Homo sapiens: one gene and its partners. The protein of the gene in region 4 interacts with the protein of the main gene of each other region in a pairwise test. Each region holds a gene or a part of one and is shown on either strand. Other genes may lie near its edges. The genes, in order: NCSTN, SLC16A11, SLC16A13 and BSG.

Region 1 (7,551 bases), on a different chromosome or scaffold from region 4:
GGTCTGTCTTCTTATTCAACGTACTCCTTGAGCAATATCTTCTACTGCTTCTCCTTTGGCTCCTCCCTTCATGACGACAAATCACAAATATATTTCTAGCACAGACACCTCAACTAGACTGTCCCTTAGGTCCCTCAAAATCACCAGAGACAAGATGGAATTCATTATCCATTCTCTTCCACTCCAGAAAACTATCTCCTCCTGATTTTCCTTTCCTAGTTAATGACACCCCCTTTACCCAGTGACCTAAACTAGAAGCCTGAAAGTCAGCTCATTTATTTCTCCTTATTGGCCCTTATTTCTCCTTATTGGCCATCTCATTTATTTCTCCTTATTGGCCATCACCCAACAGACACACTGATTCATTTCCTTAAATTCTCACATCCATCTCCTTCTCTCCATTTCAAATGCTACTACCTAAGCTCAGGTTTCCTAACTGGTATTTTTGCCTCCTGTCTTGCCCAAATCATCCAATCTTTTCTTTAATTACCACCAAGTAATCATTTTAAAAACATATAAATCTGGTATCACTCCTGTATTTAAGTTCCTCAAATGGCTCCTAGTTATCTGCATGATAACATCTAAACTCCTGAGCGCCACAAACAGGTACTCCATGATCTGGCCCCTCTCATCTTCTGCCCCTTCTCTCACCATTTCTCCAGGTTTTCTCCATACAAAACCAATAACAGCTGCCCTGTATCTAGCTGTGTCATGCTTTTTGTCTTTGCACCTATACTGCTCTTTCCTATTTCACTGTGAATATCTCTCTATTATATTGCTTACCAAACTGTACATGCTATTACTTGGATATATGTTTATCTTCTGTATTAGAATAAAAGCTCCTTGAAAACAGAAGCCATTTCTTATTTATTTTTGAATTCCCTAAAAAGAAAACAGTGTCTGGTACACAGTAAGCATTCAATAAATGTTTGCTGAGTAAGTTCTCCGGATAATGTTGTCAAAGGCCTGAGCTCTGTATGAATGAAATTTCCTGTCTTTCAGTTCCTTTCATGATTCCCAAACCTTCCCACATCCTCTTTCCTTTATTCTCAGTTATGACAGACCCTCTGTACCTTAATCTTATAGTCATCTCCTCCAGAGACGAACAGTGGCTGCTGCTTATGGAAGTCAATGCCTCGCACTGGACCTGGTGGAGAAGGCAGGCAATGTATGTTAGACAGAGCTATCCTTTCTAATCTCTAAGGTGATTCCTATTCAGGATTTTTCAGTTCTATCATTTCCACATTCTTTAATCATAGAGGAATCCATGTCAAACAAGGCTTAAAATACCCCAGGATATTATAAATACTTATACTCCTTTAACTTCCTCCTAGAAATATCTCACCATCATGTTCATCAAACTTGTCAATGAGAGTGCACATCCGATAGTCCCATAACTGGATGACCCCATTATGTAAACTAGTCAGGATCCAAGGTCTTTTGGGGTGAAAGCTGAGCCCTGAAAAAAATAGAAAATGATACAATGAGCTAACTAAGCCCCATGATGTCACCTTCTGTCAATTCTGATAAGAAAAAGAAACATCAAGGTTAATCCTAGGTTCATTCATTCGACATGCTTGATGATTTTTTACTGGATGCCAGACATCGTGAATTTTATGTTTGGTACTAGATTTTTGTCATATTCCTTTACATATTCTTGGGCTTTGCTCTAGGATACAATTAAGTTACTTGGAATCAGTTGATCCTTTCAAGGCTTGCTTTTAGGTTTTATTACAGAGGGGCTACAGCAGCCTTCATTCTAGGCTTAATCTGGAACCACTATTAAAGCAATAGCCATCTGAGGTCTCTATTTGAAGCCCTGTAATATTAGGAAGTCTTTCCTTTCTGGCAAGTAGGAACACAAACTAGTCCCAGTTCACTAGTGTGAACTCTGGGGATTGCTCTGCCTTCTCCTTTCCAGTGGTCCTTTTTCAGGTTTTGAATAGTTTTCTCACATGCAGATCAGTACTCAAACAAAGACCTGAGAAGACATCCTGCAGATCTCTAGTGCTCTCTCTCTGCAGCCCCCTCTTCTCCGGTATTTTGCCCAACAAAATCTAGCCATCTTTGCTTCCCCACACTCTAAATTTATGTCTCCTCAGAAAGACCAAGGGATTCCCCTCTTCACTGAAGCCTAAAAACTCTCTAGGCAGTAATCTACGACAATCACAGGACTCACCTTGTTTATTTGCCTTCTCTGGAGAATTATTTTCCTGCACTGCCTGTTGCCCAACATCTGTGAGCAATGTATGAACCTTTGTTTCATACATTTTGTTCAGTTGTATAGTTAAGGTGGGAAGGTAAATCTGGCTCTTGTTATTCTATCATGACTGGAAATGGAAGTCCCCAGAGGTAACAACTACTAACAGTTTGAAGTGTATCCTTTCAGATTTTTAATGCAGTTACACATAGACATAGGCTTTAGTATTTTATGAAAGTGGGGATCACGTTATGATGTTGTTCTGCAAACTTCTTCCTCACTTAACTATATAATATGGATCTCATGGAAGTACATATAAACATAACCTCATTCTTTTTAACTACAAGGGACAAATGTACTACACTTATATTATTCTAACAGGCATTTTGTCCGCCAATTTTTGGCTATCAGAAGAGCCTACTGAAGATACTTCTACACATAATCTAGCCTATTTGCATTATTACTGCCCTAGGCTAAAGACCTGTGAGATTGCTCAGGAATAGAATATGTGCACTTAACATTTTAGTACATATAGTTTAAATGTAAAAACACTGTATCAATATACAGTCTCATGAAGTTTATGGAGGTGCCCATTTTGCACACAGGCTGCTATCAGCTATTTGTTGTTTTGTTTTATAAATCTAAGACCCTCCCCCCAAAAAAGTAACTTAACTTTTTTTTTCTTGCATTTCTTTCATTACTAGTGAGGTGGAACTATTTTAATTATTTATTGAACATTTACAATTTTTCTTCTAAATTGTCTATTTTTCCATTAGGTTCTTTTTTTTAATTATGATATATAAGTACACTCAACAATGGATGTTTGCCCTCAAATATTATGACATCTTTGTTTTTCCTTCTGTACTGCCCAGCAAGAAATTAGGAGCAGAAAAGAAAACTGAAAGATTATGAAGACCCATTTCACATTTCACCTATACAGGTCTCAGAAATTCTTAATGGTACCCATCTTTCAAGGTCAAGTTTCCCAAGAGACTTAGAAACTGCTCAGAATATATTCACACATTGATAACAACCTCCAGTTTTTGAGCTACTGAGTCTACACCAGGCGCTGTAATAAATACACTCCATATACTTTCTCATTTTAATACTCTCTATAAAAGACGATTTTACAGATGAGGAAATACAGACTTAGAGACATTAAGTAAGTCATCCAAGTCACAGCTTGTTAGTGGATGTCTCAGGATTCCAAGGCAAGCCCATCTGACTTCAAAGACCAAGTTCCTAACCACTTTGTTACGCTGCATCTCACTAAATATTCTAGATACTATTTTTTCCAGGTCTTCGGAGACCTTACTTCTCTGACTTTCACATTCTAACGTTCTGAGGCTAATACTGCGATCTCAGTATTTGCCCTCCACCCCCAACGACCCACACTCGAGCTCTAGAGCTGCCGTACTTAGCAAATAAAAATACGAGATTTCCAGATAAATTTGAACTTCTGGTAAGCAACGACAGACTAAAAAACTATTCATTGTTTACCTGAAATTCAAATTTAACTGGGTATCCTGCATTTTATCTGGCAACTCTATCAAGTTGAGACTTTATTGGGGTTATAAGCCTCAAGTACTATTTCCGGGTAGTAAATAAAGCCGAATGGAGGCACTGATGTTGAGATGCTGCAGCCAAGGCCTCCTTAAGTGAGGTTGCCACTACTCGTCTCCAAAAAGGCTACTGACTCGGGTGCGAGTAACAGAGATCGAGACTCAGTTCCCAGGGCCACTCCATATAACACAGTCATCAAAAAGCCAACAGATCACAGGGCCTTTGGAGCAGAACAACACAAATCGGGAGCACAGCCAAGAGAGAAAGGGGGAAGAAAGAATAGGGAGGGGGTCTAAGGAATCCCCTGCAGTGTGGGAGCCACTTTATAGGTAAATCGAAGCCCAAGGACACACCAAAGAAGAGGGGACTGGAGAACCGCTAGCCAGGCCCAACCTCTCTCCCACCCTCCGTCTTCCTCCGGGTCCGTCTGGTGGGCCCATTTCGACCAACACCTCTACCCATTTTCTCTTCCCCGGTGTCAGCGCCGCTCCTGACATCCAACCTCCATGTTCCCCCTTTTATTCTCCACTACCTTTGACCCGCGCGCTCTTGGTCTCGAATTTGGTTAACATCTCTCAGGTCTCCGACTCCGATGTCTTAATCCGAGCCCCGACACACCCTGCTGCCCTTCGGACGCCTCCACGTCAGCGACCCTCTCCCGCGGTTTCCGGAAGCGCCTGGAAACACGAACTTCCGGTCTCTTAGGCTCCGGGCCACAGAGACGGTGTCAGTGGTAGCCTAGAGAGGCCGCTAACAGACAGGAGCCGAACGGGGGCTTCCGCTCAGCAGAGAGGCAAGATGGCTACGGCAGGGGGTGGCTCTGGGGCTGACCCGGGAAGTCGGGGTCTCCTTCGCCTTCTGTCTTTCTGCGTCCTACTAGCAGGTGAGGCCTCCCCGCCCGTGAGCTCCGTTCTCTAAGGGGAACTCTCGGATCGGCCCCGCCGCGACCGCCACTGTCTCCCTTCTGGTTCCTGCTGCCCCTCTGTCCCCCCACCCTGTAAATCCTCTTTCTTTTTCGTTCCCACGACAGAAGTTCCCCCTTTGCCTGGACCTGAAGGTCCCTTCTCCCCCGCAGCACGTCGTGTCGCTTCACTCCCTTCTCTAGGCCTCTTCCTGGACTTCGAGCCTGACCCTCTCCCACTTTGTCCAGATGTCTCGTTTTTCCCACAACCCCAGCCACCCACCCCACAGTCGAAAGGAACAGGTGTGAAAGTTAGCTTTCTTCCTCGCGTTTAGACTTTTTGAGACGAAAGCAATCTTGTTCTGTGGGTGCTGTGCGGCGCTTAAAAGGTGGATTTCTTATTTCTTCCTCTGTTGATTACATCCTAAGTCTGTGTCCCCCTGCCTTGCCTCAGGTTTTTTTTTTTTTTTTTTTTTTAATCAGTAAAGCAAGAATAAGGTAGGATATGGGTACTCTTAACTGTGAAGACCCTGAAGTAACAATTCAAGGAACTTTTGGCATTTATAATGTACTTAAGTGTTTGCTGATACGCGTTCATTTACTGATACATGGCTTTTTAGTTGGTCAAGCCCTAAAATGCAAATGCCTGTATATAACTATGACTGTGCCTTCCCCCAATTCACATTGTTTTTAAGGATCCTCAAAGGAGAAACTACAGCTGCCCCACACTGTGGGCACACAAATGACCTGCTGATGTTAAATTAACTGACCCGTGTATGTCATAAGGTTTCTCTCAATTCTGTTCACACTCTTGGAAAAATGCCTCAGAAAGTTTTCTTAGCCCAGCACCTGTGTATTAACCAATTAGTAATATACATACAGGATATACAAGCAGAAGTGTGATCACCTGTGCAACCAGAATCTGGCAAATCTAAGGTCAAACACCTTTCCTTTGACCAAGTTTTCTCTCTTTTAGTGTCACTGTCAATGGCGCTACATGGACTTTGTAATAACCCTTTGAGGCACATAGCTGGGTGCCATGTAGAACATGTATCTGTTACGATAAGTGTGTGCCCAAGAAATCAGAAGAATGGACTTTAATCTCATTTTAGAAAGTATGATATTAAATGATTTACCCAAGCCATACTTCAGGTTAATGACACGATAGAAGCTAGTACCTGTGTCTCTCAAATTTTTCTAACACTTTTTATCTTCCGATCAGGTTTGTGCAGGGGAAACTCAGTGGAGAGGAAGATATATATCCCCTTAAATAAAACAGCTCCCTGTGTTCGCCTGCTCAACGCCACTCATCAGATTGGCTGCCAGTGTGAGTTGAGATGGATTCATGTTTGTGGACATTGATATTTGTCTGTGCCCTAGATACTAAGTAACATCCATGTCCTGCTTAGGAGATTTGACACTTATATTGGACTGTATGTAGGCAGTTACAGATAACCGTCTGTCAAGCTAGGCAAGATAATTAATAAGAACTAACATTTAGTAAATGCTGCATACCAAGCTTTTTACATGTGCATCTCATACAACCCCAACCACAACCCCACAAAATAGGTCTTACTGTTATTGTCACTTTATAAATGATGAAACTAAAACTTAAAGAAGTTGAGTAACTTTCCCAAGATCATACTGGTAATAAGTGATGATGCCAGGATCTGGTGGCCCGAGCACTAAGCTGAGAGACCTTTTTTTTTTGACACGGAGTTTCACTCTTGTCCCCCAGGCTGGAGTGCAATGGCACGATCTCGGCTCACGGTGACCTCTGCCTTCTAGGTTCAAGTGATTCTCCTGCCTCAGCCTCTTGAGTAGCTGGGATTACATGCACCTGCCACCATGCCCAGCTAATTTTTGTATTTTTAGTAGAGATGGTGTTTCACCATGTTGGCCAGGCTGGTCTCGAACTCTTGACCTCAAGTGATCCACCCACCTTGGCCTCCCAAAATGCTGGGATTACAGGCGTGAGCCACCGCACCCAGCCGAGCCAGCACTCTTAACCACCCTATTATACTGTTTTTTAAGGAGAAAAAAGTCTCATATTCTATGGTGTCCAGTTATCACTTGCACTCTGAACTTTTTGGAACCAAAATGGGCTAAAGGCAATGAACTATCTGAAGAGAAGGCACTGAAAATGCCAAATAGGCTGGGCGCAGTGGCACATGCCTGTAATCCCAGCACTTCAGGAGGTCAAGGCGGGTGGATCACTTGAGGTCAGGAGTTTGAGACCAATCTGCCAGCATGGTGAAACCCCCCCATCTCTACTAAAAATACAAAAATTAGCCGGCTGGCTGCTATGGCATGCCTGTAGTCCTAGCTTCTCGGGAGGCGGAAGCAGAAGAATCCCTTGAGCCCAGGAGGCGGAGGTTGCAGTGAGCTGAGATTGTGCCACCATACTCCAGTATAGGTGACAGAGTGAGACACTGTCTGAAAAAAAAAAAAAAAAAAAAAAAGAAAATGCTGAATAATTGCAAGAGGAATTAGTGAAGCATTCTATTTATCCTTTTTTAAAACTTTTTTTCCTTAAATTCAACTGACAGGCCGTTTATTTTCACACTTTGTGTGTTCCAAAAGAAGGTTCCATGACACTGTGGCTTTAAAAACTATCAAAATCATAGGGCAGGAAAAGTAGTAATCTAAAGGCTAACCTGCTGTCTTCAGATTTTGTTTCCCATGGACAATAGCTCTGTCAGAATGTAGTTTTGCAGATAAGCAGGAAACTTGGGGTCTGATACTGGCTTCTTCATCATCAAATTGATCACCTCTGAATTTCAGTTTACCCCTGGAATAATGGTTGGAGTACTTGCATAAAGCTGAAAGTCAAATACCTCTTAATAGTTGTTTATTGATGACGCTAGGTAAATAGGGTGGTCTCAAA
Region 2 (7,470 bases), on a different chromosome or scaffold from region 4:
CCGACCTCAGGTAATCCACCTGCCTTGGCGTCCCAAAGTGTTGGGATTACAGGTGTGAGCCACTGCGCCCGGCCTTCTCTTTTGTTTTTAGAGTTAAGGCAGGGAGACCAGCATTTTCACACAAACTTTGGAAAATGCTAAGGGAAAAGAAAGAAGAAAAGCAGAAATTTCCATTGAATCTCTTTATAGCCATTCACATTTTCTAACCCATGTGGCTCTACTGAGAACTTACCAGGGCAATGTGGTGCCTTGACCTTGAGGCATGGGCAGAGGTAGCCAGGTGGGAAAGGGCTGCCGTGCTGTTAGGTCCAGCCAGGTTCCTCAACTCACAGCAATAGCGGCAATGGAGGCTGAGCGCGGTGGCTCACACCTGTAATCCCAGCACTAAGGGAGGCTGAGGTAGGTGGATTACTTAAGGTCAGGAGATCAAAACCAGCCTGGCAAATATGGTGAAACCCCGTCTCTAATAAAAATACAAAAAAATTAGCTGAGTGTGGTGGCGGGCACCTGTAATCTCAGCTACCTGGGAGGCTGAGGCTGGAGAATTCACTTGAACCTGGGAGGCAGAGGTTGTGGTGAACCTAGATTGTACCACTGCACTCCAGCCTGGGCAATAGAGCAAGACTCTGTCTCAAAAAAAAAAGAAAAAAAAAAAAAAAGAAAGAAAATAGCGGCAATGAGCTCTAACACGTATACTTTGGCACTGTTCTAAGTTCCTTACTTATATGTGTATTCACAGTGACTCATTTAATTCTTATAACAACCCATCAGGTAGCTACTGTTATTACCCCCATTGTAGAGATGAGGAAACCGAGGCACAGAGAGGTTGAGTCACACTTGCTCATAATCATATAGTTACTAAGTGGTAGAGTGTGGGCGAAAGATTACGTAGATGCCGAGGCAAGAGACTGAAGGCACAAACTGTTTCAGTGTAATAAAGAAAATAGAATAAAAATAGTCATAATACAAATGAGATATAGAGATGATCATGGACAATTATCAATCATTATTATAGACATTATTAATCATTAGCTTTTAATATTACTTTTTGTTGCATTACTAATATAACCTACGAATAACCGGCAGGTATAGGGTCAGGTGATGAAGGGACATTGTGAGAAGTGACCTAGAAGGCAAGAGGTGAACCTTCTGTCACGCTCGCATAAGGGCCGCTTGAGGGCTCCTTGGTCAAGCGGTAACGCTAGTGCCTGGGAAGACACCCATCACTTAGCAGATCGCGAAAAGGAGTGTCCTTTCCTTGGAGGAGTCAGGGAACACTCTGCTCCAGCAGCTTCTTGTGGAAGGCTGGATATTATCCAGGCCTCCCCGCAGTCATCCGGAGGCCTAAACCCCTCCCTGTGGGGCTGTGCTTCAATGCTCACGCTCCTTGTCCACTTTCATGTTCCTCCCGTACTCCTGGTTCCTCTTTGAAGTTCGTAGTACAGAGCGGTAGATGAAATAGTGAAAGTCTAAAGTCTTTGATCTTTCTTATCAGTGCATAGAAGAAAACGCTGACGTATGCTGCCTTCTGTCTCTACTTCGGCTACCTAAAAGGGAAGGGCCCTCCCGTCCTGTGATCACGTGACTTGCTGCACCTTGTCAATCACTTAGAAGATTCACCCTCCTTACCCTGCCCCCTTGTCTTGTATGCAATAAATATCAGCGCAACCAGCCGTTCGGGGCCACTACCGGTCTCCGCGTCTTGATGGTAGTGGTTCCCAGGGCCCAGCGTCTTTTCTTCTATCTCTTTGGCTTGTGTCTTTATTTGTTACAATCTCTCATCTCCGCACACGGGGAAAACACCCGCCAAGCCCCGTAGGGCTAGACCCTACAGTAGAGCTGGCATTCAACCTCAAGAAATCTAGCTTGGGAGTCCATTCTCCTAATCTCTGTGCTATTTTACCTCCGTGAGCAAAAGATGACAAGTTTTGCTAAGAATATAGGGAGCCTGAGGTAGAAGAGGAATGTGCTCTTTCACAGCCCTAGTCCCAGGCTCTGGGATACCCTTCTGGCTTCGTAAGCATCCTGCGAAGGTGCGCAGCATCACTTAGCACAACTCCCAGATGCGGAGGGCCCGGTCTTCGCTCTGACTGTCCTGCATTTCTGCGTCACCATGGGGAGACAGTGATTCGTTTAGCTTGGAGCAGAGTCTTCAGCAGCCTTCTCAGGAAGCGGGATCCCTGCCCTCCCCGGTAGCTGAGGACCTGCTGGCTCCGCCTCCCTGGTGGCTTTCATAACAGCACTCCAGGCTGGGGAAACCGGTGGGGCCACTTTCCTAAGGTGTGTCTGTCAGGACCTTCATGAACAACAGGACGTTTCAAGCAGAGAGCATGACATATGCAAAAATTAAGGAGTGAGAAAAAGCTAGGCATGTCCACAGAGCAGAGAAGACAGTGGCTGATGGGAGGCTGGCAAAAGGGAGAGAGGGGAGATGGTTTGGAACGGTAACCTAGGTCTACCTTTGATTATTGTAAAAGACCTGTACAAATAGAGAAATGTAATTTTTCCCGTCTATAGGCAATGGAGAGCCATTGCCTATAGTCATGCTGTGTCTTTTATGTTTACAGTTTTGCTCCTTAAGAAGCTGTTTTTCTTGTCTTTACGTGCAGATTCTTTCCCAATAATTAGGAAACACTGCCATCATGTGGCTCAATGGATGCATGCTCCAAACTTAAGTTGCTGAATGTTCTATCATATTGTTTAATAATTAAACCAAAGAACACATCTCTGAATTCAAAGAGCTGAGGTAAAGAATGTCAACCTATCAAAAAAGGACATTTTCTATAAAGTTTTTCAAAAAATCAATACCTGGCTTCAATGACCTGATTTTTTACTTTGCTTTTAAAATTGTAACCTGGCCAGGCATGGTAGACTGTAATCCCAGCACTTTGGGAGTCCGAGGTGGAAGGATTGCTTAAGTCCAGGAGCTTGAGACCAGCCTGTGCAACATGCTGTGACCCCCTCTCTACAAAAAAAATGAACAAATTTAGCCAGGCATGGTGGTGTGGAGCCTGTAGTCCTCGCTACTCGGGAGGCTGAGGTGGAGTATTGCTTGAGCCTGGGAGGTGGAGGCTGCAGTGAGCCATAATGGCAGTACTACACTTCAGCCTGGACAAGACCCTGTCTCTATAAATAAATACACACACACATACATACATACATACATACATACATACATACATACATACATAATAAAAAATAAAATTCTAACCTAAGTGTTTAGAGATTCTGATCTCAAGAATCCTTTCTATTCCCAGTGACCCCTTATTTTAGACTCATAAGTTTTCTGTCCCTGCAATGGTTCCACCCTTTCCAGGGCAGTTTGCTTCAAGCTGTATCCAGGATCTTTCCCTTAACTGTGCCAGATTTTGTTTCAGTCCTGGGATTGTTCTCCTTGTAGGTCCACAGTTGGACAGACCTAAATTCAAATATCCATACCATTTTTTCCCTGAGAGCTTCAGTTACTGCATCTATAAAAGAGGCACGACATCGGCCAGGCGCGTTGGCTCACTCCTGTAATCCCAGCACTTTGGGAGGCCGAGGTGGGCGGATCATCTGAGGTCAGGAGTTCCAGACCAGCCTGGCCAACATGGCGAAACCCCATCTCTACTAAAAAATACAAAAATTAGCTGGGAGTGGTGGCAGGCGCCCGTAATCCCAGCTACTCAGGAGGCTGAGGCAGGAGAATGGCTTGAACTTAGGAGGCAGAGGTTGCAATGAGCCGAGATCTCGCCACTGTACTCCAGCCTGGGCTACAGAGTGAAACTCCATCTAAAAAAAAAAAAAAAGAAAAGCGACACCTTCTTCATAGGGTTATCATAAGATGAAGTGATAGCATGTGTAAACGGTGCCTGGTACACTGCAGGTCTTCACATTGAGGGAGTCGTGTTTCATCCCTCTGTCCTTGAGGACCTGTTATTTTATTTTATTTATTTTATTTTTGTTTATTTATTTATTTTTGAGACAGAGTCTTTCTCTGTCACCCAGGCTGGAGTGCAGTGGCATGATCTTGGCTCACTGCAACTTCTGCCTCCCGGGTTCAAGCGATTCCCCGCCTCAGCCTCCCAAGTAGCTGGGACTACAGGCGCCCGCCACCACACCCGGCTAATTTTTTTTGTATTTTTAGTAGATATGGTGTTTCGCCATGTTGGTCAGGCTGGCCTCGAACTCCTGACGTCAGGTGATTCACCCACATCGGCCTCCCAAAGTGCTGGGATTACAGGCTTGCACCGCGCCCGGCCTGGGGGTCTGTTATTCTAAGCACAGAGCTGGCACTTGGTGGAGGTCTGTGATCTGATTGATATCCGAGATTTACCTGGTCCTCGGCAACGTTCCTGAGAACAAAACTACTCATCCCCTCAGGTTTTGGGGACCATCCCTATTTCCACGCGTTGGCGGTGGACCCTGGGCTCGCTGGGGTTTGCAATCCACGTGTCTCCCCTGCGCGCAGCAGGCGGCAGGTGCATGCGTGTGAGTAGGGCAGGGCCCCTCTGCATTCATTTCTCGCCGCTCCCCCCTCCCCCGGGCCTGGGGGTTGTGTGTGTACATAATTCAATCCCCGTGGGACTGGCGTCTGGCCTCACGCGCGGCTTGCCGGATTGGCTGTTTCAGCTCGCCCCCGCCCTCCGTACACCCCGCGTCCCAGGTGGCTCAGGCCCCTGTGGTGATCTCTGTTTACCGAGAGAGCCCGTCCAAGTTGGGCTCCATCGCTGCCCTCGCTCCCCTTCGGGGCCCCCGCCCGCCTGGGAAGCAGAGAGAAAGCCGGGCCCAGCCCTTCCTCACCCTTCCCCTCCCCGCACCGCCCGGAGAGGTCGGGTAAGGGGGAAGGAGTGTGCGTGGGACGGGGAACCTCGGGCCTGGGGATCTGGCTGTCCCCGTCCCCGTACCTCGCGCGGACCCGGGAGTTCCAGCCCTAGGCCAGGCTCCGGCTCCCTCCGCCCCGCGCCATCGCGCTCGGAGTGACGGGCCCACCCCGGGCGAGCAGCCAGAGGCTGGATCTCAGGGATGCCAGCTCCCCAGCGGAAGCACAGGCGTGGAGGCTTCTCTCACAGATGTTTCCCCACCCCGCAGACGGCGATGACCCCCCAGCCCGCCGGACCCCCGGATGGGGGCTGGGGCTGGGTGGTGGCGGCCGCAGCCTTCGCGATAAACGGGCTGTCCTACGGGCTGCTGCGCTCGCTGGGCCTTGCCTTCCCTGACCTTGCCGAGCACTTTGACCGAAGCGCCCAGGACACTGCGTGGATCAGCGCCCTGGCCCTGGCCGTGCAGCAGGCAGCCAGTGAGGGGGGCCCTGAGGCGGGAGACAGGAACGGGGAGGAGGAGCCGTGAGTGGAGGGATGGGAGACCCACCTGATTACCCGACAACCTGAGAAAGGGCAACCGGCTCTAGAAAAGAGTGCATCTTGAGGTCAAGGAGAAGAACCATTAGTTCGAGGGAGGCAAACAGCCAATGAGAAGTGTTGGAGAGAGTTTGGGGGCCCGGGGGCGTGTCTTCCGTTGACTCCGCCCCCTTTCAGGCCCCGTGGGCAGCGCCCTGAGCACGCGCTGGGGGGCCCGCCCCGTGGTGATGGTTGGGGGCGTCCTCGCCTCGCTGGGCTTCGTCTTCTCGGCTTTCGCCAGCGATCTGCTGCATCTCTACCTCGGCCTGGGCCTCCTCGCTGGTGAGGGAAGTGGGATGCCCGGGTCATTCAGGGTGAAGGAGGTGACAGGAGCTTGTTGGGATCTGGGGTAGCGAACGAGGCGGGGGCCTGGTGCGGAGAGCCGGGCTGGGAATGCTGGGGCGGGCGTCCCCAGTGCCGGCCCCCATCCCCTCCTATTCATTCGCAGGCTTTGGTTGGGCCCTGGTGTTCGCCCCCGCCCTAGGCACCCTCTCGCGTTACTTCTCCCGCCGTCGAGTCTTGGCGGTGGGGCTGGCGCTCACCGGCAACGGGGCCTCCTCGCTGCTCCTGGCGCCCGCCTTGCAGCTTCTTCTCGATACTTTCGGCTGGCGGGGCGCTCTGCTCCTCCTCGGCGCGATCACCCTCCACCTCACCCCCTGTGGCGCCCTGCTGCTACCCCTGGTCCTTCCTGGAGACCCCCCAGCCCCACCGCGTAGTCCCCTAGCTGCCCTCGGCCTGAGTCTGTTCACACGCCGGGCCTTCTCAATCTTTGCTCTAGGCACAGCCCTGGTTGGGGGCGGGTACTTCGTTCCTTACGTGCACTTGGCTCCCCACGCTTTAGACCGGGGCCTGGGGGGATACGGAGCAGCGCTGGTGGTGGCCGTGGCTGCGATGGGGGATGCGGGCGCCCGGCTGGTCTGCGGGTGGCTGGCAGACCAAGGCTGGGTGCCCCTCCCGCGGCTGCTGGCCGTATTCGGGGCTCTGACTGGGCTGGGGCTGTGGGTGGTGGGGCTGGTGCCCGTGGTGGGCGGCGAAGAGAGCTGGGGGGGTCCCCTGCTGGCCGCGGCTGTGGCCTATGGGCTGAGCGCGGGGAGTTACGCCCCGCTGGTTTTCGGTGTACTCCCCGGGCTGGTGGGCGTCGGAGGTGTGGTGCAGGCCACAGGGCTGGTGATGATGCTGATGAGCCTCGGGGGGCTCCTGGGCCCTCCCCTGTCAGGTAAGGACCTGAGCTCACAGATCTGCCTACAACTATCCTCTGCCCCTGGGGTTCGAGGCTTCTAAATGCCCTTACCCATCTCCTCAGGCTTCCTAAGGGATGAGACAGGAGACTTCACCGCCTCTTTCCTCCTGTCTGGTTCTTTGATCCTCTCCGGCAGCTTCATCTACATAGGGTTGCCCAGGGCGCTGCCCTCCTGTGGTCCAGCCTCCCCTCCAGCCACGCCTCCCCCAGAGACGGGGGAGCTGCTTCCCGCTCCCCAGGCAGTCTTGCTGTCCCCAGGAGGCCCTGGCTCCACTCTGGACACCACTTGTTGATTATTTTCTTGTTTGAGCCCCTCCCCCAATAAAGAATTTTTATCGGGTTTTCCTGAAACCTCCAACTGTTCACCAATCTAGGACCCTGAAAATATTCTACATAAGACAGCCAGAAAGGCTGGTTCAAAGGAACAGGATCCCAGAAGGCCCTGGGTATGAAGAAGGGTGACTGTCCAGCCAATCCATTTCTCTTTGCCCAAGTCCTGGCCGTAACAGGGAATCTTTGCGAAGTTGTCTGGCAGCCAGTTTCAGTGTGTTGCTGGGGTTGGGGGCGGGTTGCTAGTGGGTGCTATCTGCCCCATCTTCATGTCCCTTACCCTAGTTCCCAGACCTCCCAGACTTAACTCTTCCCTGCATTTCAATCTCCTTCTATGGGCCTGAGGGAAATACAAGAATCCTAGGCCCAGACTTCAGCTCTATCAAAGCTATTCACACATCTATACCCTGTGTCCTCAGCATTCTCTCAATTTCTTTTCTTTCCTTCTTTTTTTTTTTTTTTTTTTTTTTGAGACAGAGTCTCCCTCTGTTGCCCAGGCTGGAGTGCAGTGGCGCGATCTTG
Region 3 (6,902 bases), on a different chromosome or scaffold from region 4:
TATGATTTGCACCTTCTGGAGCTTCAATACAAGCAACACACACACACACACACACACACACACACACACACACACAAGGAACACCTGGGGCCACTTAAGCCACCACCAGGCTGGGGTGGCCACAGAGTGCTACACTGGGGTGTGGGGTGCAGAGTCCTGAGGTTGCCCTGGGCGGTGAGCCCATGGAGAGCACCCAGGGCCTGTACCCTGAAACCCTCTGTCCTCCAAGGCCTCTGGGCCTGTGATGGGAGGGGCAGCCTCAAAGACCTCTGAAATGAGTTCAGGGACTTTCTTCCATTTTCTTGAGGAAGAGCACCTGGCTCCTTTTTAGCCATGTTAATCTTTTTAGCAAGAAGTGGCTTGGCCACGCCCTTGGATTCATCTCCTGAAAATGCTCTTTCATTCTCTACCACATGGCCAGGCTGAGAATTTTCCAAATGTTTCCACTCTGTTTCTTTTCTCTGTGAGATCATCTTAAGCAGTTAGAAGCAACCACACAGCAGCCTCAGCATTTTGCTGCTTAGAAATGTCTTCTGCCTGCCAGATACCCTAGTTCATCACTCTCAACTTCAGCCTTCCACAAAGCCCTTGGGCATGGATACAGTTTAGCCAAGCTCTTTGCCAGTTCGTAACAAGGATGGCCTTTACTCCAGTTTTCAATACCTTGCTCCTCAGTTCCATCTGAAAGCTCATCAGAATGGCTTTTGCTTCCATATTTCTTTTTTTTTTTTTTTTTTTTGAGATGGAGTCTCGCTCTTTCGCCCAGGCTGGAGTGCAGTGGCACGATCTCGGCTCACTGCAACCTCCGACTCCCTGGTTCAAGCGATTCTCCTGCCTCACCCTCCCGAGTAGCTGGGATTACAGGCGAGTGCTACCATGCCCAGCTAATTTTTGTATTTTTAGTAGAGACAGGTTTCACCATGTTGGCCAGGATGGTCTCAATCTCCTGACCTCATGATCCGCCCACCTCAGCTTTCCAAAGTGCTGGGATTACAGGCGTGAGCCACCCCGCCCAGCTGCTTCCATATTTCTATCAACATTCTAGTCATAAACACTTAACCAATCTCTAAAGAATTCCAAACTTTTCTTAGTCTTCTTGTCTTCTAAGACCTCTCCAGAATCTAGGCTTTTTCTAGCCTACTCCTCCAAATGCTTCCAGCCTCTGCCCATCACCCACTTCCAAAGCCACTTCATCATTTTCCGTTATTCATTATCAGCAACACCCCACTTCTTGGTACCAGTTTTCTGTCTCATTCAGTTCATTTTCTGTTGCTTACAACAGATTATCTGAAACTGGGTAATTTATAAAGAAAATGAATTTATTTCTTATAGTATGGAGGCTGAGAAATCCAAGGTCCAGGGGCCTCACCCTCTAGTGAGGGTTTTCTTGCTGATATGGACTCTCTGTGGCACAGGGTGTCACATGGCAAAGGGGGCTAAGCATGCTAATGTTCTAGCTTGGATCTGTCTGAAAAAGCCGACAATTCCCCTCCCATGATAACCCATTAATCTATTAACCTTTTAGTCCTTTATGATGGGGTTAATCTGTTAACCTATTAATCCATTATGGTGGGCTAATTCATGGGGATTAATTAATCCATTAATCCCATCCAATCACCTTTTAAAGTTTCCACCTCTCAGTACCGCCAAGTTGGGGATTAAGTTTCAATATGAGTTTTTGGAGGTAACATTCAAACCATCGCAGTGGTCGTTTCTCAATCTTTTTAAACCCATGACCTGGATTAGATTTTTTTTTTTTTTAATCAAAAAACAAAAACTAGGCAGGGCATGGTGGCTCACGCCTATAATCCCAGCACTTTGGGAGGCCCAGGCAGGCAGATCACCTGAGGTCAGGAGTTCGAGACCAGCCTGACCAAAATGGTGAAACCCTGTCTCTACTAAAAATACAAAAAATTTAGCCAGGCATAGTGGCAAACACCTGTAGTCCCACCTATTCGGGAGACTGAGGCAGGAGAATCACTTGAACCCAGGAGGTGGAGGTCGCAGTGAGCCGAGATCATGCCATTGCACTCCAGCCTGGGAGACAAGAGCAAAACTCCATCTCAAAACAAAAAACAAAAAACAAAAAAAAAAACACTAAACTAAAACCTTCCTTCACTTCCCACTACAGCAGCTTATCCCCTGTTGAAAATAACACCAATAAGACCAGCTAAGCTAATATTACTTGGCTCCTGCTGCATGTCAGCACATAAACTAAGCATTTTTAGTGCATGGATTTTCTAACTGAACCCCTTGGGCAACGCTTAATAGTAGGTACTATTATCCCCAGTTTACAGATGGGGAAACCAACTGAGAGATTCAGCATCTTGATCGAGTTAAGTAATAAAGTCAAGATTGGAACTGGGCCAGGCACGGTGGCTCACGCCTGTAATCCCAGAACTTTGGGAGGCCAAGGCTGGTGGATCACTTGAGGTCAGGAGTTCGAGACCAGCGTGGCCAACATGGTGAGACCTCGTCTCTACTAAAAATACCAAAATTAACTGGGCGTTGTGGTGGGAGCCTGTAATCCCAGAAACTCAGGAGACTGAGGCAGGAGAATCACTTGAACCCGGGAGGTGGAGGTTGCAGTGAGCCAAGATCATGCCACTGCACTCCAGCCTGGGCCACAGAGCAAGACTCCATCTCAAAATAAATAAATAAATAAATAAATAAATAAATAAATAAATAAATAAAAGACTGGAACTGTGATCTGATTCTAAAGACCCGAGTTCTTAATCACTATGTAATACAGCCACAGCAATTTCTGTATCTTTGGCATATTCCCCACCAGCCGACATTTTGACTCTTAGAAAGTATATATGTGTATTATTGATGATTACTTTTATTTCCCACATATAAAATTATTTAAGGCTCAATATGTCTTTTAAGACTACACACCTCCCTCCCTGCCTCCACTTCTTGTTTGCTGCTTTCCCCAGTAATCTGGGAGTGAACATTGAGTCCACGGTTTCAAGGTCAGGGTCCTGGGAAGTATGGCTTATAATGAAGGAACAGGAAATCCAAGCCATTGGTGTTATGGAGACTGGGAAGGACTGGGGAGTGTTTGCTAGGGGCCTGAGGACTACTTGGGTAAGAGGGGGCTGACTGCTCCAGTGGCCAGGGTCATAGTTTGTCTCTTTAGTCTACCCCACCATCAGATCAAAAAAGGTGGTTAGGAAGTGGTTGTTACTAGAGGGCAGAGGAAAAGGTTCCAGCCCCAGTGAGGAAGAGGTAGGTGGTGTTGGTGGGGCCCTGTGTGAGCTTACAGCCGCCCTTCCTCTCCTCAGTTATTTTTGGTCTCTGTGACCTGTAGGTTTCCTGTTAGTGGGAACAGAAGTGACAGGAACGAGTTCCCACTACAGAAATGAACGCCAGGAGTCCAACTCATTCCCCTTCTCTCTTCCCTTAGCCGTTGAACTTCTCAGGGATCCAGGCTTCTAGGTCTGCGTGCCTAGGGCTGCGTGTTAGTGGCTTCAGGCGCTGCGCCAAACACTTCGTTTGAGTCTCATCTCCTAACCCCTCCCCTACCCCCAACAGGGCCTTGCAATTCCTGGACCCCTCATTAAAGCAAGAGAGTCCTCTCCTCTCCAGACCCAGTTTACCCACCACTAACCCTTCCGTGTGGCTCTGGGTGCTGAAACGGGGATGACTTGGCCCGCTAGGTGAAGAGGAGACGGAAGCTTCCTGGCAGTCCCCGCGTCACGTGGGGCCCTACCTAGTCAGCCTCCTAACGCCCCTCCTTACGCATGCGCCCATTCACTGCTGGTCCCCAACAATGCCTAAATCCCGCCCTGCCCTTCTCGTTCCGCCCCTGCCCGGGAGCCCCGCGTCCTCATTGGCGAGCTCCAGGGTGGCCCGGCCCGGACACCCCAGTGATAAAATAGATCATCTACACGGAAACTGGCGCGCTCCAGGGGTGGGGCCCAAACTCAGTTCCACCCTCTGGCTCCCAGCCGAACACCGAACCGGGACCGATCCGGCCCCGGCTTGAACTAGCTCAGCTCCGAGCTCGCGGAACCACGCCCCCGGGAGACTCTGGCCCGGCCAGCGCGGGCCAGGTCTTCAGTCCTATATCGCCCCGCCTTGGGAAAAGGTGCAGGGGCCTCTCGCCGCCTCGTCGGGCCCTTCCTCTCTACCTGCCTCTCCAACCCCTCTCGGCCCCGAGCCACCCGGCAGCGGGGGTGGGTGTGCAGAGGTGCGGCGTCCAGAACCCGGCTCCTGCAGAGGCTCTGGGTGGCAGCAGCCCTGTTACCGCTTAGATGGCGCGCAGGACAGAGCCCCCCGACGGGGGCTGGGGATGGGTGGTGGTGCTCTCAGCGTTCTTCCAGTCGGCGCTTGTGTTTGGGGTGCTCCGCTCCTTTGGGGTCTTCTTCGTGGAGTTTGTGGCGGCGTTTGAGGAGCAGGCAGCGCGCGTCTCCTGGATCGCCTCCATAGGAATCGCGGTGCAGCAGTTTGGGAGTGAGTGCGGCGCCTGGATCTGGCGGACTGCGACCCTCGGAAGGGAGAGGGAATGCGGCGACTGGGAAGTGGAAGGGCGAGGGGCGGGAGATGCTGGGGGGGAGACCCCTGAGATCTTCTCGCAGCGCCCCTTCCACTTCCTCAGGCCCGGTAGGCAGTGCCCTGAGCACGAAGTTCGGGCCCAGGCCCGTGGTGATGACTGGAGGCATCTTGGCTGCGCTGGGGATGCTGCTCGCCTCTTTTGCTACTTCCTTGACCCACCTATACCTGAGTATTGGGTTGCTGTCAGGTGAGAGCCTGCACAAGGGCAGGAGAGTCAAATGCTTAGATCGTTGGATGTTCACCTCCTTCCTGCTCCTTCCAAAGGGTTCGGGGAGAAGCTGAGGGAAAGTTTAGCTAGCACCTGTACCCAGAAGGGAATTCTTAATAGGAATGACTAAAGCGACAAACATGGTGAGGAATTAGGAAATTCAAGGATGATGAAACCTGGCCGGGCACGGTGGCTCACGCCTGTAATCCCAGCACTTTGGGAAGCCGAGGCGGGTGGATCACGAGGTCAGGAGTTTGAGACCAGCCTGGCCAACATGGTGAAACCCCGTCTCTACAAAAATACAAAAATTAGCCGGGCCTGGTGGCGCTAATCCCAGTTACTCGGGAGGCTGAGGCAGGAGAATCGCTTGAACCCGGGAGGCGGAGGTTGCAGTGAGCCAAGATCGCACCACTGCACTCCAGCCTGGGCGACAGAGCAAGATTCTGTCTCAAAAAAAAAAAAAAAAAAGATGAAACCAAGTATACAAGCCCAGAAGCCCAGGGCTAATGGGACTGGAGTGTAAAAGGAAGAATTACTATAAAATGGTGCTAGGGGCCAGGCACGGTGGCTCACGCCTGTAATCCCAGCACTTTGGGAGGCCGAGGCGGGCGGATCACGAGGTCAGGAGATCAAGACCATCCTGGCTAACACGGTGAAATCACGTCTCTACTAAAAACACAAAAAATTAGCTGGGCGTGGTGGCAGGTGACTGTAGTCCCAGCTACTCGGGAGGCTGAGGCAGGAGAATGGTGTGAACCCGGGAAGCAGAGCTTGCAGTGAGCCGAGATTGCACCACTGCACTCCAGCCTGGGCGACAGAGCGAGACTCCGTCTCAAAAAAAAAAAAGAAAAAAAAAGGTGCTAGGTACTGTGACTGTGAAATCGATATCATTATTGGATTTACAGCTGGGGAAAAGCTTTAAAGCTTATACAACTTGGCAAATGAAGGTCACACAGCTAGAAATGGTAGAGCCCAGGTCTAACTCCAAAGTTCTGTGCTAGTTACCTTACAAACTTTGTCTCTAATCTTCCACAATCCCAAAAAGTGTATTATTACATTTTGCAGTTGAGAAGGTTGAGGCTGGGGGTGTTAAGTAAAACACACAAGGTTACACAGCTATGAAGTATCCAAGCCAAGATTGTATCCCAGGTCTGTGGGACTCCGAAGCAAGTGCTACATTCTGCTGCTGGGCAATGCGGGGATTACTGTGTGCCTTGAGCTCCCTAAGAGTTCTCAACACCACTTCTTCCTTTTTGACAGGCTCTGGCTGGGCTTTGACCTTCGCTCCGACCCTGGCCTGCCTGTCCTGTTATTTCTCTCGCCGACGATCCCTGGCCACCGGGCTGGCACTGACAGGCGTGGGCCTCTCCTCCTTCACATTTGCCCCCTTTTTCCAGTGGCTGCTCAGCCACTACGCCTGGAGGGGGTCCCTGCTGCTGGTGTCTGCCCTCTCCCTCCACCTAGTGGCCTGTGGTGCTCTCCTCCGCCCACCCTCCCTGGCTGAGGACCCTGCTGTGGGTGGTCCCAGGGCCCAACTCACCTCTCTCCTCCATCATGGCCCCTTCCTCCGTTACACTGTTGCCCTCACCCTGATCAACACTGGCTACTTCATTCCCTACCTCCACCTGGTGGCCCATCTCCAGGACCTGGATTGGGACCCACTACCTGCTGCCTTCCTACTCTCAGTTGTTGCTATTTCTGACCTCGTGGGGCGTGTGGTCTCCGGATGGCTGGGAGATGCAGTCCCAGGGCCTGTGACACGACTCCTGATGCTCTGGACCACCTTGACTGGGGTGTCACTAGCCCTGTTCCCTGTAGCTCAGGCTCCCACAGCCCTGGTGGCTCTGGCTGTGGCCTACGGCTTCACATCAGGGGCTCTGGCCCCACTGGCCTTCTCCGTGCTGCCTGAACTAATAGGGACTAGAAGGATTTACTGTGGCCTGGGACTGTTGCAGATGATAGAGAGCATCGGGGGGCTGCTGGGGCCTCCTCTCTCAGGTAAGTGGAATGGGGTTCCCAGGGGGTGAGGGCTGCCATGTTGCACAACTAGGGGAGGGTACTATTCTCATTACAGTGTATGTGAATATTGCCCTCTGGTGTAGTACAGTACACAGCCTGCGTGGCCAACCATAGC
Region 4 (7,021 bases):
CTCCCGCCCACCGCACCTGCCTCAGGAAGAGTTCCTCTGGCGGACGTTCTTGCCTTTGTCATTCTGGTGCTGCCCGCTGCTCTTCCTGGGGCACGAGGGGCCGGGTGAGAGGGTGTCCCCCGCAAGTCACTCTCTCCAAGTCACCCCTGCCCACCCCGGCCCCCAGGACCCCCGAATACTGAAGCCCAGGGGCTCTGCCTTTGTGTTTTAAAGGCCTGGGGCAGCAGGCCGCTCCTTGGGACCCCCGACCCCCACAGCTGGAACTTACAGGGGTGCAGAGCCGGCGTCGTCATCTGAAGAAGGACCGCCGCCATGAAAAAGAGGACGAGAGGACAGCCTGTCAGCACTGGCCCCACTCAGGCCCCGAGCAGGGGCATCTGTGCTGCCAGCCCTGCCCTCAGTGACCCCCAGGGGTGGCTCGGGGCAGCTCATCAGCCCCGGCCACGTGCATCTTCTGAGTGCTGTGGGGAAAGGCAGCCCTCCCCACCTGCAGGTGTGCTCCCCATGGTGAGCTGTCCCCATGGCCTCGTGGGCCTCACCCCTGCCCCACAGCGTTTTCCAGGAGCTGCCATCACAGGCCCCACACAGGCCTCGCCCCGGCACACGCAGCCCAAGGGGCAGAAGGGCTCCGCGAGGAGGCAGGCAGGGGCTGCCGGAGCACAGCATGGCTGACCTCAGGTTCCCGAGCCTGATCATGCAGAGCAGCAAGGGCCGGCTCACCACGGAGGACACTGGCTTGCAGCCAAGTGAGCGGGAGGGAAGGGCCGGGTGAGGCTGTGGGGCGGAGGTGCCGCCTCCTCCTCCCGGGGTCCCGCTGCCCACTGAGCCGCAGCTGCCCGGGGCTAGACCCTCCATCCCACACTTTCTTTCGGGGTCCCATCAACTCCCTGCCTGGGGCTCCTCAGTTCCAAGCTCTGGGTCAGCGGTGGGGCTGGCAGGGACGGACCAGGAGTGGCCCTGGGCCACCCCGAGAGCAGGGCATGTGGGCAGGAGGGCAGACGGCTCACCATCCAGGACGTCCTCGGGCTTCCGGCGCTTCTCGTAGATGAAGATGATGGTGACCAGCACCAGCACCTCAGCCACGATGCCCAGGAAGGGCCAGAGGGCGGCCAGGTGGCTGCGCACGCGGAGCGTGATGATGGCCTGGTCGGAGCCCTTGGAGCTGGTGCCGTTGCACCGGTACTGGCCGGGGTCGGCCTCCATGTTCAGGTTCTCAATGTGTAGCTCTGACCGGCCCTGCGAGGAACTCACGAAGAACCTGCTCTCGGAGCCGTTCATGAGGGCCTAGGGGACCAAAGGCAAGGGCTGAGTCCAGGACCCCCAGTCTAGGCCCCTCACCCAGTCCTGAGGGCTGAGTCCGGGACCCCCAGTCTAGGCCCCTCACCCAGTCCGGAGGGCTGAGTCCGGGACCCCCAGTCTAGGCCCCTCACCCAGTCCGGAGGGCTGGGTCCGGGACCCCCAGTCTAGGCCCCTCACCCAGTCCTGAGGGCTGGGTCCGGGACCCCCAGTCTAGGCCCCTCACCCAGTCTGGAGGGCTGCAGTCCAGAGGGCTGGGTCCGGGACCCCCAGTCTAGGCCCCTCACCCAGTCCGGAGGGCTGGGTCCGGGACCCCCAGTCTAGGCCCCTCACCCAGTCCGGAGGGCTGGGTCCGGGACCCCCAGTCTAGGCCCCTCACCCAGTCCTGAGGGCTGGGTCCGGGACCCCCAGTCTAGGCCCCTCACCCAGTCCTGAGGGCTGGGTCCGGGACCCCCAGTCTAGGCCTCTCACCCAGTCCTGAGGGCTGGGTCCAGGACCCCCAGCCTCCTTGGCTTCTCACCTTGTCCTCAGAGTCAGTGATCTTGTACCAGGCCCAGTCAGTGACAGGTGGCACGGACTCTGACTTGCAGACCAGCATGGCCGTCTCCCCCTCGTTGATGTGTTCTGACGACTTCACAGCCTTCACTCTGGGAGGCCCTGACAGGAGGGTGAGAGAGAGGAGCCTGGAACCGCAGGCCCGCCCCCATCCCCGGCCTCCCGCAGGAGGGCTGTTCCCCTCCAGGGAGCAGGGGGCCAGGGCTCTGGGATGTGCCGGGTGCCTCAGGCCAACAACTTCTCCCGACAGTCGGTGGTGCCCGGTACCCCTGGCTGCAGGACTCACCGTGGAGCTGGATGTTGGCCGTGCCCATGGGCTCGGGGAGGAAGACGCAGGAGTACTCTCCCCACTGGTCGTCGGAGTCCACCCTGCAACCACAGCAGGCAGGTGAGCCGCGTACCAGCTCTGCAGGACGCCTCCAAGGACCCAGGGTTCTCCAGGGGCCCAACCACGGCACAGTGAAAAAGCAAAACTGTCCCAGTCAAGTCTGAACCTCAAAAGAACTCCTGGGGTCCCCGTGCGGCCCCAAGGACAGAGCCAGGCTGGCAAGACCCCACAGGTGAGAGAACCAACAGACCCCCTTCTCCCCGACTGATGAACCCCACACCTCTGGTCCCTGCTCTGCACCCCACACCCTGTGACCGTCTTCCCAGTCAGCCTGAAAACAAAAGGCTCTGTGCTCCCAGGGCCGTCCCAGCCCCAGTTATGACAAAGCTCCGGCCATGACAGCGTCTGGGGTCCGAGCAGGGCATGCCTCAGTGTGGTGCCCTCTTGTGCCAGGAGCACAGAGCCTGGGAGGCCCGCACACGTGCCCGGGACCTGGCAGTGTGGCGCCCTTTCGTGCCCGGGACCTAGTGAGGAGCAAGCAATGGGGACTCCTGCCAGGGCTGCTGGAGCCCCCTGCCTCACAAGGACGCCCCTCAGACCCCTCCCTGGGGTTTCCCTCTGGGGGTCTGCGCGGAGCTGGTCCCTAACTTCCGCCTGGATCAAGCCTGCCGACCGGTCTTTTGTTCTCACGGACCACAGGCCGCTGGCGGCAAGAGAGCCGTGAGAAGGGGCAGGTGGCGGCATGGCGTGGTCAGGCACTCACTTGAACTCCGTTTTCTGGCCGGGCAGCGCGTCCTCCTTCAGCACCACGCCCCCCTTCAGCCAGCGGTGCCCTGTGACCTCTGTGGCGCTGTCATTCAAGGAGCAGGTGAGGAGTATCTTGGAGCCAAGGTCTTCTACGGTAGTGAAGACTGTGCCGGCTGCAAGGCCCGGCGAGACGCGGTCAGCAGAGTGGAGGAGCACGGCCCGCGCTGCCTGCCTGACCCCCAGGAACCTGCGGCTCCTCCCCGGGAAGGACTGGTTTTCATCCCAAAAATACACCGTGGCCCTTACGCCCCGAGGACCGGAGGCCCAAGGGGAACTTCTGGCCACGCCTCCGGGAAGGGAAGAGCCCAGCGCCTGCTGAGGAGGCCCCTTCGGGAAGGCACCCCCTTCGGGAAGGCACCCTTCGCTGGCAGCTGGCGGGCCCTGGGCTAAGGCGCTGGGAACCCAGAGGCCCCGCCTGGCGATGTTCCTGCCCAGAGACACACGAGGCTGGGACCAGGGTGTGGGGACAGACAAGGCACCCACCCACGTCCCTGAGCAGGGACCAGGGCATCGAGCTCTTGTAGCAGCCCCAGCACAAACTGGAAATTCTTTTCTAAAAACGTAGCCAGCTGGGCGCGGTGGTGGCCGGGCGCGGAGGCTCACGCCTGTAATCCCAGCACTTTGGGAGGCCAAGGCGGGTGGATCTCGAGGTCGGGAGATCGAGACCATCCTGGCTAACACGGTGAAACCCCGTCTCTTCTAAAAATACAAAAAATTAGCTGGGCATGTTGGCTCATGCCTGTAATCCCAGCTACTCAGGAGGCTGAGGCAGAAGAATCGCTTGAACCCGGGAGGCGGAAGTTGCAGTGAGCCGAGATTGTGCCACCACACTCCACCTGGGAACAGCAAGACTCCATCTCCAGGAAAAAAAAAAAAAATAGCCACAGCACCCCCGGCCAAGGCTCCCGTGCCCTTCTCTAGGAGGCACTCAGGTGGCCCCACATCCCCCCAGCCCCAGGCTGACGGCACTCCAGCAGTGCTGGGAGCACCCCGGTTCTTCTGCCAATCCCCAACCAAGCAAATCTCTTGGTTCTTGGTTAGTTTACAATATTCCCGCTAGGAATTGAAATTTGAAAATCCCTTAGAACGAGATGCTGCGAAGGACACAGAAGGTTCTGAGACCTGCAAGCCTGGGCTGAGCTTGGAGGGCCCCTCAGGCTTGCAGTATGGACGCTCAGGGAGGGAGCCGGGCAGGCGCCCGGGGAAGCAGAAACGACGGAACGGATGGCACGAGGGTCGAGGGGAGGACGAGGACCCACCTGCTGGAGGGCAGAGCCCTGCCTGCCCCGAGCCAGGCCGCCCAGCGCTGGTGGTCAGGCGGCGAGCCCACCCCCTTCAGGTCCGGGCCCCTCCGTCCAGGCGGTGGGCCCAACGGGGCACAGCGGGACGGAGAGGGGAGGAGGCGTCTGGGTTCTACTGAGCAGGAGCCGGGAGGCGAGCGGCACAGGAGGGAAACTGAGGGAGGCGGGGAGGGAGGTGCCCGCCACTCACGTTCCAGGACTAGCACGACTGCCTGGGCGCGGACCCACTTGACCCTGGGCGCCCGGGTCAGGTGGTTGCGATCCGGGTCGTTGCTGGCCCGGCACTCGTAAGTGCCCGTGTCCTCCTCCACGAGCGTGTCGATGGAGATGGTGCTGGCCGCGTGCTGGTGGTAGGTGGCGTGGATGTGGACGCGGTCCAGCCGGGCGCCGTCCCAGAGCTGGGAGCAGGTGTCGTTGGGACCCTGCCCTTCAAACCACCACTGGATCTCGGGCACCGGGCTGCCCACGGCCTCGCAGTGCAGCTCCACACTGCCCCCCACCCACCTCTGCTGGGACAGCGGCGCCTGGACGAAGCCGGCTGTGGGGAGAGCACGCGTGGGGTCTTGTTAGTGCCTGGGGCACTTGGGAGGGCAGCTCCTGGGGAAGGCCTCGCCCACAGGACTCCCAGCCAGGGCTGGTGGAGAAGCCACTTCCTTTCAGCTTGTGGGAGAGTGATGGGGCCCGGCTGGAAACAGCATGGCATGGGAAAGACCGTGGGCGTCCCGTCCACTGCTACCTCACGGCAGCCACGGCGGCTTCTGAGGGCACAACTGTGGGACCACACGTGGTTTCAAAACACAAAACACATGAAACTGGGCAGAAGAGCCAGGAGTCCTGAGCCCCGAGGGCTGCCCAGAGCTCAGGTCCCAAGCGCACCGTCCTCTGACTTCTGCCCGATACCCTGACCCCAGAGACCCGGGTGAGCTGCTGAGAAAAACAAACCCCAAAGCCCAAAGGGGCAGGCGGCCTCTGTCCAGAAGCCCCTAGCCCGGCTCCGTTAGGACAGCCCGTGGGTGGAAAGCTCGTGTCCTCAGCAATCTCTGAGGGCGGCGACCCAGAGAGAGGCGGATTTGGGAAGCTGGGAGCCAGGCAGGGCCTCAGGGCCTCTCACCTCCAGCCACACGCCTCCCCTTCCTTCGAAATGCAAGGGAAGGCCCCCAGAGCTGCCAAGGAGCACAGCAGAATCCACACAGAACCTCACACTGTGCCTAGCACTCGCCTGCCAGGAACAGCCCAGCCCAAGGGGAAGCGTGGGGAGTGCCTCCTCCCGCCAGGACCTTGCAGCCCTCCCCACAGCACCTTCTGAGGTCAGACTCCCCAGGCACCGCTACAACACACACACACACACAAGGACACACGTCTGCAAACACACACAACACATACACACGTGCATATGCGTGCACACGGCTCCGAGGCTGCGTGGCAGTGCACAGGTCACGGCCCCCAAGGCCACGGGGACAGGAATGTTCACGTCTGAGCACCTCAGGTGAGCTCTGGGCAGGCGCAGTTGACAAGTTTTGGCAGCGCCATTTTCTTTCTCCTCTTCTTCTTTTTTTTTTTTTTGAGACAGAGTCTCACTCTGTTCAGCAGTGGTGTAATCTCAGCTCACCGCAACCTCTGCCTCCCGGGTTCAAGCAATTCTCCTGCCTCAGCCTCCCAAGTAGCTGGGATTACAGGTGCCTGCCACCACACTCAGCTAATATTTTGTATTTTTAGTAGAGACGGGGTTTCACCATTTTGGCCAGGCTGGTATTGAACCCCTGACCTCGTGATCCACCCTCTTGGGCCTCCCAAAGTGCTGGGATTACAGGCGTGAGCCACCGCGCCTGGCTGGCAGTGCCATTTTCACAAAGGGATCTCCTCCTGGTAACCTACATTTCTTGGGAGTTAAGATTTCCCAGACTGCAACACTGGCAGCTATGTGCAGAGCTGGGCGAGGTGAGTCAGGGCAGGAAGCACAGCCAGAGGCTGCCCAGCTGGCAAGCTCCTTCCTGCCCTGCAGCAGCCCCTCTCCTCATCCTCCAGACCTGCAGGGCTGGGCTCCACATCCTCCTCACCCAGGGGTGCTAGGAGAGGGCTGGCCCCTGACTCACCTCACCCCACCTCCAGGCAGGGCAGGGCACACAGGAAAGTGAGGAGGACCAGGTGGGGCCCGCAGCCGAGCTGCCCCCAGCCACCTTTCCAGGAGTCCCGGGCTCCCAGGCGCCATCTGCACCGGTCCCGGTGCTCCCGCTGGGTCCGCCAGCTTCTCAGCGGGCAGCATCGCTCCCAAAGGGACCAAAAGGCTTTGGATGGAACAACCCTGTGTCCCTCCGGATGCTGATGATGCTGGTGTCTGTGTATTGACGTGTCACTGGGGGTGGGGGGGCGTCCGGAAGAGAAAGCCTCCATAGAGGCTCCTCGGGGACAATGCAGAGCGCCCCCACCCCACGGACCACCCCATCTCGCCCGCCGCACCAGGAGCCTCCACCCATGAGCAGCAGGAGGAGGGACGGCGCCTGACCCTCGGCCACAGCCCCAGAAAGGTTAGAATTCGATTCTGGCCACATGAGACGTAACCCATGTTCTCAAGTAAAGTCACCTTCATCTAAAAACAGCCTCCGCCTCCTTGCCCAGGGCTCAGGGCCAGGCAGGCCGCGTGGTACTTGTACACAAGCAGCCCCGCAGGATAAGGCTGCCCGCCCCCACCCGCCCTCCTCCCCACCCACCCCAGTGCTCAGACAGCAGCCAGCGA

Evidence for each region.
Region 1: the proteins of BSG (region 4) and NCSTN interact in binary tests that used the Homo sapiens proteins (3 or more experiments, as listed by UniProt).
Region 2: the proteins of BSG (region 4) and SLC16A11 interact in binary tests that used the Homo sapiens proteins (3 or more experiments, as listed by UniProt).
Region 3: the proteins of BSG (region 4) and SLC16A13 interact in binary tests that used the Homo sapiens proteins (3 or more experiments, as listed by UniProt).

The regions. Positions count from the first base shown.
Region 1 is NC_000001.11:160,338,836-160,346,386, forward strand, and holds the start of NCSTN (nicastrin isoform 1 precursor), read left to right. Parts: upstream 1-4,547; 5' UTR 4,548-4,561; coding exon 4,562-4,646; intron 4,647-5,640; exon of another isoform or gene 5,641-5,754; coding exon of another isoform or gene 5,755-5,779; intron 5,780-5,886; coding exon 5,887-5,991; intron 5,992-7,551. Other genes in the region: COPA (coatomer subunit alpha), read right to left, coding at 1,074-1,147, 1,346-1,459, 4,296-4,335. UniProt on the Homo sapiens protein: Essential subunit of the gamma-secretase complex, an endoprotease complex that catalyzes the intramembrane cleavage of integral membrane proteins such as Notch receptors and APP (amyloid-beta precursor protein).
Region 2 is NC_000017.11:7,041,120-7,048,589, reverse strand, and holds SLC16A11 (monocarboxylate transporter 11), read left to right. Parts: upstream 1-4,497; 5' UTR 4,498-4,815; exon of another isoform or gene 4,816-5,070; 5' UTR 5,071-5,076; coding exon 5,077-5,278; intron 5,279-5,349; exon of another isoform or gene 5,350-5,516; coding exon 5,517-5,660; intron 5,661-5,826; coding exon 5,827-6,594; coding exon of another isoform or gene 6,595-6,659; exon of another isoform or gene 6,660-6,681; coding exon 6,682-6,911; 3' UTR 6,912-6,969; downstream 6,970-7,470. UniProt on the Homo sapiens protein: Proton-linked monocarboxylate transporter. It catalyzes the transport of pyruvate across the plasma membrane.
Region 3 is NC_000017.11:7,032,124-7,039,025, forward strand, and holds the start of SLC16A13 (monocarboxylate transporter 13), read left to right. Parts: upstream 1-3,891; 5' UTR 3,892-4,259; coding exon 4,260-4,458; intron 4,459-4,603; coding exon 4,604-4,747; intron 4,748-6,028; coding exon 6,029-6,766; intron 6,767-6,902.
Region 4 is NC_000019.10:575,578-582,598, reverse strand, and holds part of BSG (basigin isoform 1 precursor), read right to left. Parts: intron 4,826-7,021; coding exon 4,478-4,825; intron 3,100-4,477; coding exon 2,943-3,099; intron 2,221-2,942; coding exon 2,138-2,220; intron 1,954-2,137; coding exon 1,817-1,953; intron 1,285-1,816; coding exon 1,008-1,284; intron 294-1,007; coding exon 269-293; intron 86-268; coding exon 22-85; 3' UTR 17-21; intron 1-16.